2 separate regions of the Homo sapiens genome follow, and region 1 is linked to region 2. The links come from fine-mapping of genetic effects on gene expression. Tissue or cell type: whole blood. Region 2 holds a variant in brackets; the other region holds the start of a gene. All regions are shown on one strand. Distances are between the middles of the regions.

Region 1 (5,379 bases), 24 kb before region 2:
TGGGCACCATAGTGAGACCCCACCATCTCTAAAAAAAAAAAAAAGGAAAAAGAAAGAAACAAAAAACCCAGCATTTTAAAAATGCCCTTACAAGGGACAAAGAATTCCTTGAGAACATGAATGACCTACAGGCAGGCAAGGCTTGTGTAAGGTCTCTAAATTATGAGCAGCACATAAACAAGTGCCAAATAAGTGCCAGTGCTCTTATCTTGATAACCCTCTTCCCTTCGTGGGTCCCTGACTAGGAATCCAATTAGCTGACCCCACTTGTCTGTATAAACAGAGTCACTGGTACAATCTGTTCCTCGCACATCATAAACAAGCGTCTCTACAACACAAACCCGGCACACACCCCATCAACATCTCATCAATTTTGAGAAGAAAAAGCCTGGCATTGAGCACACACCTGGAAAACCTGCCCTGTGTGGGCCTCCCCCGTCACCATCCACTGCCGAAAAATAAGGGTGCAAGGCCGTCTCGACTTTCCCCCACAGGGCGTCTTCCTTTTGTCAGAGCAGGGCACACTCCCAGCCCGGGTGGTTCTCTAGGAACACTGAGGATTGCATAATTTCATGTTTGCCCAGACCATGTCAAGTTAATAATCCACGGACTGCTGCCTTTAAATTTTTTAAACAGGGGCGGGTGGGCAGAGGAAGTTAAGAACCATCCCTCAACAGTAACTTGTTTCAAGCCTGGCATCTTTATTTGCCAAGGAATAAAAGTCACGAGAACATCAAACAGAAAGGGGGAAGGGAGTAAAGGCCTCTACCCTGGTGAGGTCAGACAGCTTGCAGAAGTTCTGCCAAGTGAGGAGACGACCAAAAATAAAATACAAAAAACGCAAGGAAAAGGACCAGACCCTCCCTCTAGAGTCAGGGGACCAGGGGCATATGCACAAACCGCCACCTTGGCCCTCACTGAGGGCAAAACTCCCAGCTTCCAAGAAGTGAAATAAAAAAGGGCAAGGACTTCTTTATCCATGGTCCCCCGATGACCCCAGAAGCCAATATGGCTTTACAGCACCACCCACTCCCAACGCTCACCCTCCTCCTTTCACCAAATCCTAAAAGGTACCTGAGCTACTCCAGACAAACTTCCATCTCGGTAGCAGATGTCAGAACTGTACCTCCCAGGCAAGGGAGAATTGTTCCCTAACGGGGTGAGGACATTGTAGGTATCTAGGAAGTTTCAAGTACACTCACCTTCAACTCAGGGTCACCTTCAAACTCATTGTTAAGATATGGCAACATACTTAATGGCAGCAAACTAAAACTTAGCCAAAGCTACAACTAAAACTTCAGTACAGTAAAAATGTATTCCATTGTAGCATTTCTTGCAAGTGAATGGACACTTAATCTCTGGGTGATTAACATCTCCTCCTGGGCTTCCCTCTGGTGACATCACCGTGGTCTGCCGGGTGGCTGTCAGCCTTTAAGGCTCTAGACCTTTGCCATCTCCGACTACTTTGGCCCATGAATAAAAACAGCAGATACATCCACTAAACCCAATCATTCCCCCGCCTCCAGGAAAAGGGGATGTCTTCAGGGAGGACAAATACCTACCAGCAGCCAGGAATTACAAATAACGTTTTAAGATCTAAGTGGGAACTTCTTGGGGCCAAAACTAGCACTTAAAGGTAGCTCTAGTATGGGGGCTGTCAATGCCTGTGACTCCTTCGGCCTCATCATTCATTTTCCTTGAGCCCATATCAAATGCCCTTTGGGTTAAATTAGGCACATTTCATAAACTGTGACTAAGATGGAAATAAGGACAGGCTAAAGCTGGTTCAGGCGAGTTCACAAAGTGAAATGACTGCCCATTAGTCCCGGCCAGCAGCAGAACAGGGAAAAACAATCCTCCGGGAGCGAGAGCACACGGGGTCCTACTGCTAAGAGGGGCCTGTGGGGAACTGTGCAAAACACGCAGGACTTACTTTCCCCTCTGAAGGGCACTACTCAAATCCCTCCAGCAGAAGAAAGATTTCCATCAAGGGCAATAACCACGCGGGCCTCGGGCGAACACGCGCAAGACCATCGCGGGAAGTGGGGCGGCCTGCCCCTCCGAGCCCGCCGCCCGCCCCTCGTCCAAGGAAGGGCACTGCAGAGGGCGCGAGGCTGGGAGAGGGGCCCCGGCGGAGACGGGCAAAGAGCAGGGGACGAACTTCCCCGGGCCGGGCACCAGGCTGCTGGCAGGAAGTTTCCTCTGCTTCTCCGATACGCGGGGGAGAGGAGGGCCGCAGGGGGCGGACGGGCCAGGGGAGGCGGCGGGCCGGCAGGTGCGCGCCCTGCACCCTCTCTGCCGCCTGGGAGGAGCCCTCGCAGACATAGGGCTCTGCGCGCTCGCCTCCCCAGCGGGCCCCCAACTCCGCACGTCGGGTCCCGCCGGCGTCCATCTGTCAGTCCCTAGGCGGGACGCTGGGCGGGTCTCTCAGTCCCCAGAGGGCGGACAGCGGGGAGGCCAGGGCCCAGCAGGGGCGCCCCCTCTCCGCCCCTGGACGTCCAACGGCGCCCGGCCCGCCGGCCCGGCCCGAGACCCGCGGGGACCGCGCGCGGCCCTTACCGCAGGTAGCTGCCGGAGTTGTGCTGGTTGTAGTGCTCGGGCTGCGTGTGCCAGAAGAGCATGGCTGGAACTCCCAGCGCGCCGACCGGGGCGCGGCAGCAAGCGCAGACGCGGGGCGCGCCGAGGACCCAGCGGCGGCTTCGCGCTCCGAACCCGCGGTGCCGGCCGGCTCGGCGCATTTATCGGCGGCCCAGGGGCGGGACAGCGGTGAGACCCGCCCCCCAGGAAGCGCGGCCCGGAGGGCGGCTCCCCGCGGCAGCCGCACCTGGCTGACTCCCGCGCGTGCCTTTCCGGCGAGCGAGCGCGCCTCCGGGGCGGCCAGACCAGAGGGCTCTAGGGCCGGCCGGGTGCTCTCCCCAAACTCCGATGTGGGGCTCAGGTGACCCTTGCCGCCCCCAACCCGCTCCACACGGCCCCTCTGGCCTCTGCTCCCCACTCTACGCCCAGGGCCGGTCTCCAGAGCGGCTCCGAGATTTCCAGCCTAGGCCCTCTCTGTCGCCTTTCCTCGCTCTTGTTTTTTCATAGCACTTCAGACGCTCTGAAATCATGGGGGTTTTTTTGTTGGTTTTTTTTTTTTTGAGACGGGGTCTCGCTCTGCCACCCAGGCTGGAGTGCAGTGGCGCGATCTCGGGGCTCACTGCAACCTCTCCTCCCAGGTTCAAGCAATTCTCCTACCTCAGCCTCCTGAGTAGCTGGGATTACAAGCGCCCCCCATCACGCCTGACTGATTTTTTTATTGTTAGTAGAGACGGGGTTTCGCCATGTTGGCCAGGCTGGTCTCGAACTCCTGACCTCAGGTGATCCGCCCACCTTGGCCTCCCAAAGTGCTGGCATTACAGGCGTGAGCCCCCGAGTCAGGCCGACATTTTTTTATTTTTTATTTTTACTTGTGTACTGATTGTCTTTCCCATTAGACTGTAAGCTCCAAGAGGACAGGGCCTGGCTCGCTTAACACCCCGTTACCTGCACTGCCTAGAACAGTGCATGGGACATAGTTAAGATAAATGTTTGTTGAGTAAACATAAAAAAAGAAAAAAGGAATGCACCAAAAGAGTAATCAGAGAAGCCTTCCTGGAGGAGGTGACATTGAGCTGAGACCTGATGGATGCAAAGGAAGCATCTCTGTGAACATCACCTAGGGAAAAATAGTTCCAGGCATAGTTCCCTACCCCCTTGGCAACAGTGACTGCCAAAGCCTTGAGGAAGACCTACTTGGCATGGCTGGTCTTGAGGAGAGCTTAGGAGATGAGGTGAGGAGGGCGGGGAAGATCAGAGGGCCTGGCAGGCCAGGACAAGGAGCTAGGATTTTATTCTGTGTTTTAAGCAGAGGAGTCACATGTATGATTTGCCTTTTGGAAAGATCAGTCTGGCAGCAGTGTAGACAGTGGGTCATGGGGTGGAGGGGAGGGCCATTAGGAGGGAGTGGAGTTCCCTGGAGCCCTGACCCCTATCCAGGTGCTATCCGGTTCTCCAGTACATGGCACAGCACCTGGCACAGAGGAGATGGGGATTCTGTCCCTGAGTATTAATCCAGTCAAATGACATCCCTTGGGGACCTGGTCCAGAACTCCCCACTCCCCCACGCATGGATGTGGGTAAAACCCTCCCTCACTCTGCTGTTCCTGCCCTCCTCCCTCCAGCCATAGGTCACAACTGGCAAACCACTTCCTCTGTGCAGCCCTCAAGGACTGCCCCCCACTGTTCTGCCCTGTTAGGAGAATGGGAATATTTCCCCGGCTTCAGGTGGTGCTGTCAGCAGACAGTCCCCCAGCCATCGGCTTCTCCAGGAACTGCCCCTGCTCAGAGAGCAGCCTTGCCCTCTGTCATGTCCCTCCTGGGATAGCCCACATCCCAATGACTATCCCAGCAGAAGTATAAAAGCTTGGCCATCTCTGCCTGACTGGGGACAGTGCTGATGGGGTATTTTAGCCCCAGGACTCCCCATGAAGACAGTCAAAGCTGTCACAAGACCTGTGTCCTGCTCAGGGTCTCCCTCCTGCTTCCTTCCAGTTCCTTGCCCAGGGGTTACTCTTAAGGGAACTTCCAAAGAAACATCCTGAACACCGACCCCCACAACCAACCTCACCCCATCAGGGTCCATGACAAACCCATTGTTTAAATGGGAGACACTCTGGGGTGGTCTGGAAAGAACATGTCCTTTGCTGGACTCGTCCTTGAGTTCTAACAGGAGAGGTCCATGGGTAAGCAGCAGTGACAGTACAGTGTGGTCAGGGACGTAGAGGCTGCCCTGGGAACACAGAGGAGGACTCTGGAGCTCCGAAGAGGCTCCAGCATGAAGTGATATCTCCTGATGGATGGGTGAGTGGAAGTGAAACCAATCTGTGGAGATGGAGGGAGGTTTCCGGCCCAGTAGACGCTCCTGCAAAGGCCTGGAGGAAGGGCAGTCAATATTATTAGATGGTTCAGACCTGGGTTTACTACTTAGCTCCATCTGAATCTATGACCTTGGGTGGAGTAAATTGACCTCATGCTGCTTCTCCCATCAAGAGGTGGTGTCTGTTTCCCTCCCCTCCCCCTTCCGCCTGGGCTGACCCTGTGACTTACTTTAACCATAGAATGCAGAGGAAGTAATGCTTTTCCCTTCTGGGCTGGCCCCTAGGCAGCTTCTCTTTTTTTTTTTTTTTTTTTTGAGACGAAGTTTCTTGTTGCCCAGACTGGAGTGCAATGGCAGGATCTCAGCTCACCGCAAGCTCTGCCTCCTGGGTTCAAGCGATATTCCTGCCTCTGCCTCCTGAGTAGCTGGGATTACAGGTGCCTGCCACCACACCCAGCTAATTTTTTATATTTCAATTAGAGACG
Region 2 (5,379 bases):
ATTTTAAAAAATTAGCCAGATGTGGTGGTGCACACCTGTGGTCCCAGCTACTTGGGAGGTTGAGGTGGGAGAATCCCTTGAGCCCAGGAGTTTGAAAGCAGCAGTAGGCCATGTTCATACCACTGCATTCCATCCTGGGAAACAGAGTGAGACCCCATTTCAAAAACAACGACAACAAAATAATGGATGCAAGACAGACATCAGTAAGATGGTAGACCAAGAATATCCTGGCCAGTATTCCCCATGGAAACATTAAATAAACAACTGGAGACTGGTTAGAATACCTTTATGGAAGCTCTGGAAATCACTCAAGATTTATAGCAAACAAGATTTCATGATGTTTTGACTTGCCTATGCTCCATCCCCTCCCCAGCTGGTGCACTTTGGGGGAGGCAATGTCCTGGTTCCCAGCTTCTTTCCATAAGTCAGAGGGAGCAGAACCAATCAAGTACACCACATTCTAGGCTGTCCAGGGGCTGCCTGAGGGATTGGTCTCTGTAATTGTCTAACTTGGAGCTCAGACAGCCAAAAGTGACAATGCTCAGATCTCGAGCTGGAAGAACCTGTGGGAAGCAATGGTCATAGCTTCTGAAAACTGACCTGCAGACCCCTGAGGTAAGAAATTACTGATTAAGGAATACAATAGAATACCTAAGACCTTGAGAGGAAGCAGGGGGAGAATCTAAGGGGAAATTAAGACGTTTAAAGGTAGGTGGTACATGCCTGTAGTCCCAGCTACTCAGAAAGCTGAGGCAGGAGGACTGTCTGAGCCCAGGAGTTTGAGGCACTAGTGTGCTACGGTTACACCTATGAAAAGACCTGGGAACACCTTATGCCTTCATGCCTGGCTGATTAGTGGTCTGCATGAGACAAGTCTGCAAAGACTGGGAAAGGTGGCTGTTTTGTCAAATGCCCAATTTTTAACAAAGGATCACAAAGTGTACAAACAAATAGCAAAACATGGCTAATTCAAAGGACCAAAATAAATCTTCATAAACACAGACATCAACCTTATTGCACAAAGTCTTTAAAACAATTGCTTTATATATGTTCAAAGAACTAATGGCAAACATGGACAAAGAACTAAAAGAAGGCAGGAAAATCATATATAAACAAAATAAGAATATCAACAAAGAGATAGAAATTATGTATACATAAAAAGAACCAAACAGAAATGCTGACACTGAAAAATACAATAACTGAATTGAAAATTTTACTGCCCGTATTCAATAACAGATTCGAAAAGGCAGAAAAAAATAATCAGAAACTTGAAGACAGGTCATTTGAAATTCTTGAGTCTGATGGGCAAGAAAGAAAAAAGAGTGCAGGAAAAAGTGATCAAAGCCTATGAAACTTGTGGGACACCATCAGGTGGCCCAATACAATCACTATGAAAGTCACAGAAAAAAAGAGAGAAAAAGGGTCAGAGAGATTTTAAGAAATGATATGACCCCAAATTTCCCATATTTGAGACATGAATATACACATTCAAGAAGTTTAATGAACTTCAACTGGATAAATCTAAAGAGACCCCCACCAAGATGTGTTATAATCAAACTGTCAAAAAGCCAAAGACAAAGAAGGTATCTTCAGATCTCCAAGAGAAATGCAACTCATCAAGCACAAGCGGTCCTCAATAATATTACCAACAAATTTCTCAGCAGAAACCATGCAGGCCAGAAGGCAATGGGATAATATGTTTAAAGTACTGGAAGAATAAAACCTGCCAGTGGAGAATTCTATATCTGGCAAAACCATCCTTCAAAGATGAGGGAAAAATTACAACATTTTTAGATAAGCAAAGTTGGGAGAAGTTATTATCACTAGACTTCCCTACAAAAATAGCTAAAGGGAATCCTTGAAGTTAAAATGAAAAAACACCAGATAGTAACTTAAAAGCTCTTTGAAAGTATATAGTTCTCTGGTAAAGGTAAATAAATGGGCAAATGTAAAACCAGTATTACTGCGATTTTATTTTAGAACTTCACATTTTATTGTTCTATGTAATTTAAGTACAAAAGCATAAGATATAATTATAAATATATGTTAATGGGTACACAATATATAAAGATATAATCTGTGACATCAATAATGTAAAGTGGAGGGGGCATGGCTGTAAAGGAAGGGTTTTTGTTTGAAATTCAAGTGAAGTTATAGCAGTTCAAAATACATTGTTATAGCTTTGGGATATTATATGCAATCCTCATGGTAACCACAAAGGAAATACATATATAATATACACAAAAGAAAATAAGAAAGGAATCAAAACATCTCACAACAAAAAATCAACTAAACACAAAGAAAGGAAGTAATGGAGGAAATGATGTACAAAAATTCTTCAAGACATACAGAAAATAAATAACAAAATACCAATAGTAAATTCTTCCCTGTGGGTAATTACTTTAAATGTGAATGAATTAAACTTCCCAATAATAAGACATAGATTGGCAGAATGGCTTTAAAAAACAGTGTTTCTATGTTACAGCATAAGAGACTCACTTTAGGGTTAAGGATACA[C/T]ATTGGTTAAACGTGAAAGGATAGAAAAGGATATTCCAAGCAAATAGTAATAAACAAAGCAGGGATGACTATGTTAATATCAGACAAAATCGATTTTAATGATAAAAGGGTGAATTCACCAGGAAGACATAACAATTATAAACATATATGCACCACACATCAGAGTTCCTCATTATATGACGTATCAACTGAATTAAAGACAGAAATAGCTCTATGATAATAGTAGAAGACTTTAAAACCCAATTTTCAATAATGGATAGAACAACCAGACAGAAGATCAATAAGAAAATAGGGGATTCGAACAATGCTTTAGACAAGTTTGACCTAAAAGATATATACAGAACATCTACCCAGCAACATCACAATACACAATTTTCTCAAGTGCACAAAGGCCAGGGAGGGTGGCTCACACCTGTAATCCCAGAACTTTGGCAGGCTGAGGTGGGAGGATCACTTGAGCCCAGGAGTTCAAGGCCAGCTTGGGCAACATAGAGAGACCCCATCTCCACAAAAAGAAATTTAAAAAATTAGCCAGGTGTGGTGGTGGCAAATGCCTGTAGTCCCAGCTACCTAGAAGGCTAAAGAGGAAGAATTACTTAACCCCGGGAGGTCAAGGTTACAGCGAGCCATGATCATGCCACTGCATTTCAGCCTGGGCAACAGAGCAAGATCCTTTCTCAAAAAAAAAGAAATAGAGAGAGAGAGAGAGAAAGAGAGAGAGAGAGGAAGGCAGGAAAGAAGGAAGGAGGGAGGGAGGCAAAGAGGGAGGGAGGAAAGGAAGGAAGGAAAGGAGGGAGGGAGGGGGGGTAAGAGGAAAGGAAAGGAAAGAGAGCAAGAAAGAGAAGAAAGAAAGAAAAGAGAGAAAGAAAGAAACAAAGAAAGAAATAAAGGAAAAAAGAAAGAAAGGAAGGAAAGAAGGAAGGAAGGAAAGAAAGAAAGAGAGAGGAAGAAAGAGAGAGAGAGAAAGAAAGAAAGAAAAAAAAGAAAGAAAGAGAAAGAAAGACAGAAAGAAAATTATCCAGAAGAGATCATATGTTAGGGCACAAAATAAGTCTTAATACATTTTAGAAGATTAAAATTATGCATAGTGTCTTTTCTGATCACATTGGAATGAAACTAGAAACCAATAGCAGGAGGAAAATTTGAAAATCCACAAATATGTGGAAATTAAACAACACACTCTTAAACAACCAATGGGTCAAAGAAGAAATCACAAGGGAAAATAGAAAATATCTTTAGACAAATTAAAATGAAAACAGGTTTCTGCTTTTTTGGAGGGCAGTGATCTAATCTGCAGACACCATATCCCCTCTTCCACTTCCTGCTGCAGCCAATAAAGGCCGTTGCTACCATAAAAAAAAACAAAACAAAACAACAACAACAGGTTTCCTCTTTCACCAAGGACCCACCAAGATGAGTCATGTTCACACCAAAGCCGTGAATAAGGTGGCCTGGGTCATCACAGAAAAGCACTACATGAGCCTGGGCAACAACTTCCACATGAACGTGTGTGTGTGTGTGTGTGTGTGTGTGTGTGGAGATTGCTATTATCTCCAGTAGGAAGTCCTGCAACAAGATAGCAGGCTATGTCACACATCTGATGCAGAGGATTCAGAGGGTCCCAGTAAGAAATATCTCCATCACATTTTAGGAGGAGGAGAGAAAAAGGAGAGATAATTCTGTTCCTGAGGTCTCAGTCCTGGATTAGGAGGTCACTGAAGTAAATTCTCACACTGGGGAAATGCTAAAGCTTTTGGACATTGGCAGTCTATCCAACCTGCAGGTCACTCAGCCTGAAGTTGGGATGAATTTTAAAATGCCACGTGGAACTGTTTTGACTCTTTCTGCAATGTTATAATATTTTCAGTAAGCCTGAGACAACAGCAAAAAATAAAAAATAAAAACACAAACTAATACTTATGGGATGCAGTATAAAGAGCGCTAAGATAATTCATAGCTGTAAACACGTTAAAAAAGAAGAAAGATTTGAAATCAACAACCTAATGTTACGCCTTAAGGAACTAGAAAAATATCCCAAACCTAGCAGAAGGATAGAAAGGATAACGATTAAAGCAAAGATAAATAAAATAGAGAATAGAAAAACAATACAGAAAATCAACAAAACCAAGAGCTGGCTCTTTGAAAAGATCAACAAAATTGAAAACAAACCTTTAACTAAGTAGACTTAAGAAAAAAAGAGAAATGTAAAATAACTAATATCAGAATGAAAGAAGGGCCATTCAACTTTACAGAAAAAAAATTATAAGAGAGTACTAGAGGGCTAGGCACCGTGGCTCACCCCTATAATCCCAGCAGTTTGAGAAGCTGAGGGGGTTGGATCATTTGAGGTCAGGAGTTCAAGACTAGCCTGGACAAATAGTGAAACCCCGTCTCTACTAAAAATACAAAGATTAGCCCGGTGTGGTGGTGTGCACCTGTAATCCCAGCTATTCGGGAAATTAAGGCAGGAGAATCGCTTGATCCTGGGAGGCGGAGGTTGCAGTGAGCCAAGATCGCACCACTGTACTCCAGTCTGGGCGACAGAGTGAGACCCTGTCTCAAAAAAAAAAAAAAAAAGAGTACTAGAATAACTGCATGCCAAAAATATTACATAACCCAGATGAAGTGGACAAACTCATAGAAACACACAACATACCAAGAGTTGATGAAGACACAGAAACTCTGAAAAGACCTATCAGTAGGAGGGAGATTGGATTCAGAACCAAAAACCCCTCAACAAAGAAAAGCCTAGGACCAGATAGCTTCACTGGTGAATTCTACCAGACATTTAAAGAAGAACTAACACCACTTCTTCTCAAACTCTTACAAAAAATTGAAGAGAAAGGAACATTTTCAAACTCA

The links. PIP is the estimated chance that this variant, and not a neighbour inherited with it, causes the effect.
Region 1: it holds the start of TFCP2L1, and the variant in region 2 is fine-mapped to the expression of TFCP2L1 in whole blood (INTERVAL, PIP above 0.99).

Annotation. Positions count from the first base shown.
Region 1 is chr2:121,282,489-121,287,867 of GRCh38, forward strand. It overlaps TFCP2L1 (transcription factor CP2 like 1), which reads right to left and starts at 2,714. Exons shown (of 15, transcript NM_014553.3): 1 at 2,560-2,714. The coding sequence starts at 2,621. RefSeq lists a silencer at 2,740-2,879.
Region 2 is chr2:121,306,066-121,311,444 of GRCh38, forward strand. It overlaps the pseudogene RPS17P7. Among named protein-coding and RNA genes, the nearest start is that of TFCP2L1, 24 kb to the left of the region's middle. The variant C/T (reference allele first, on the strand shown) is at 2,518.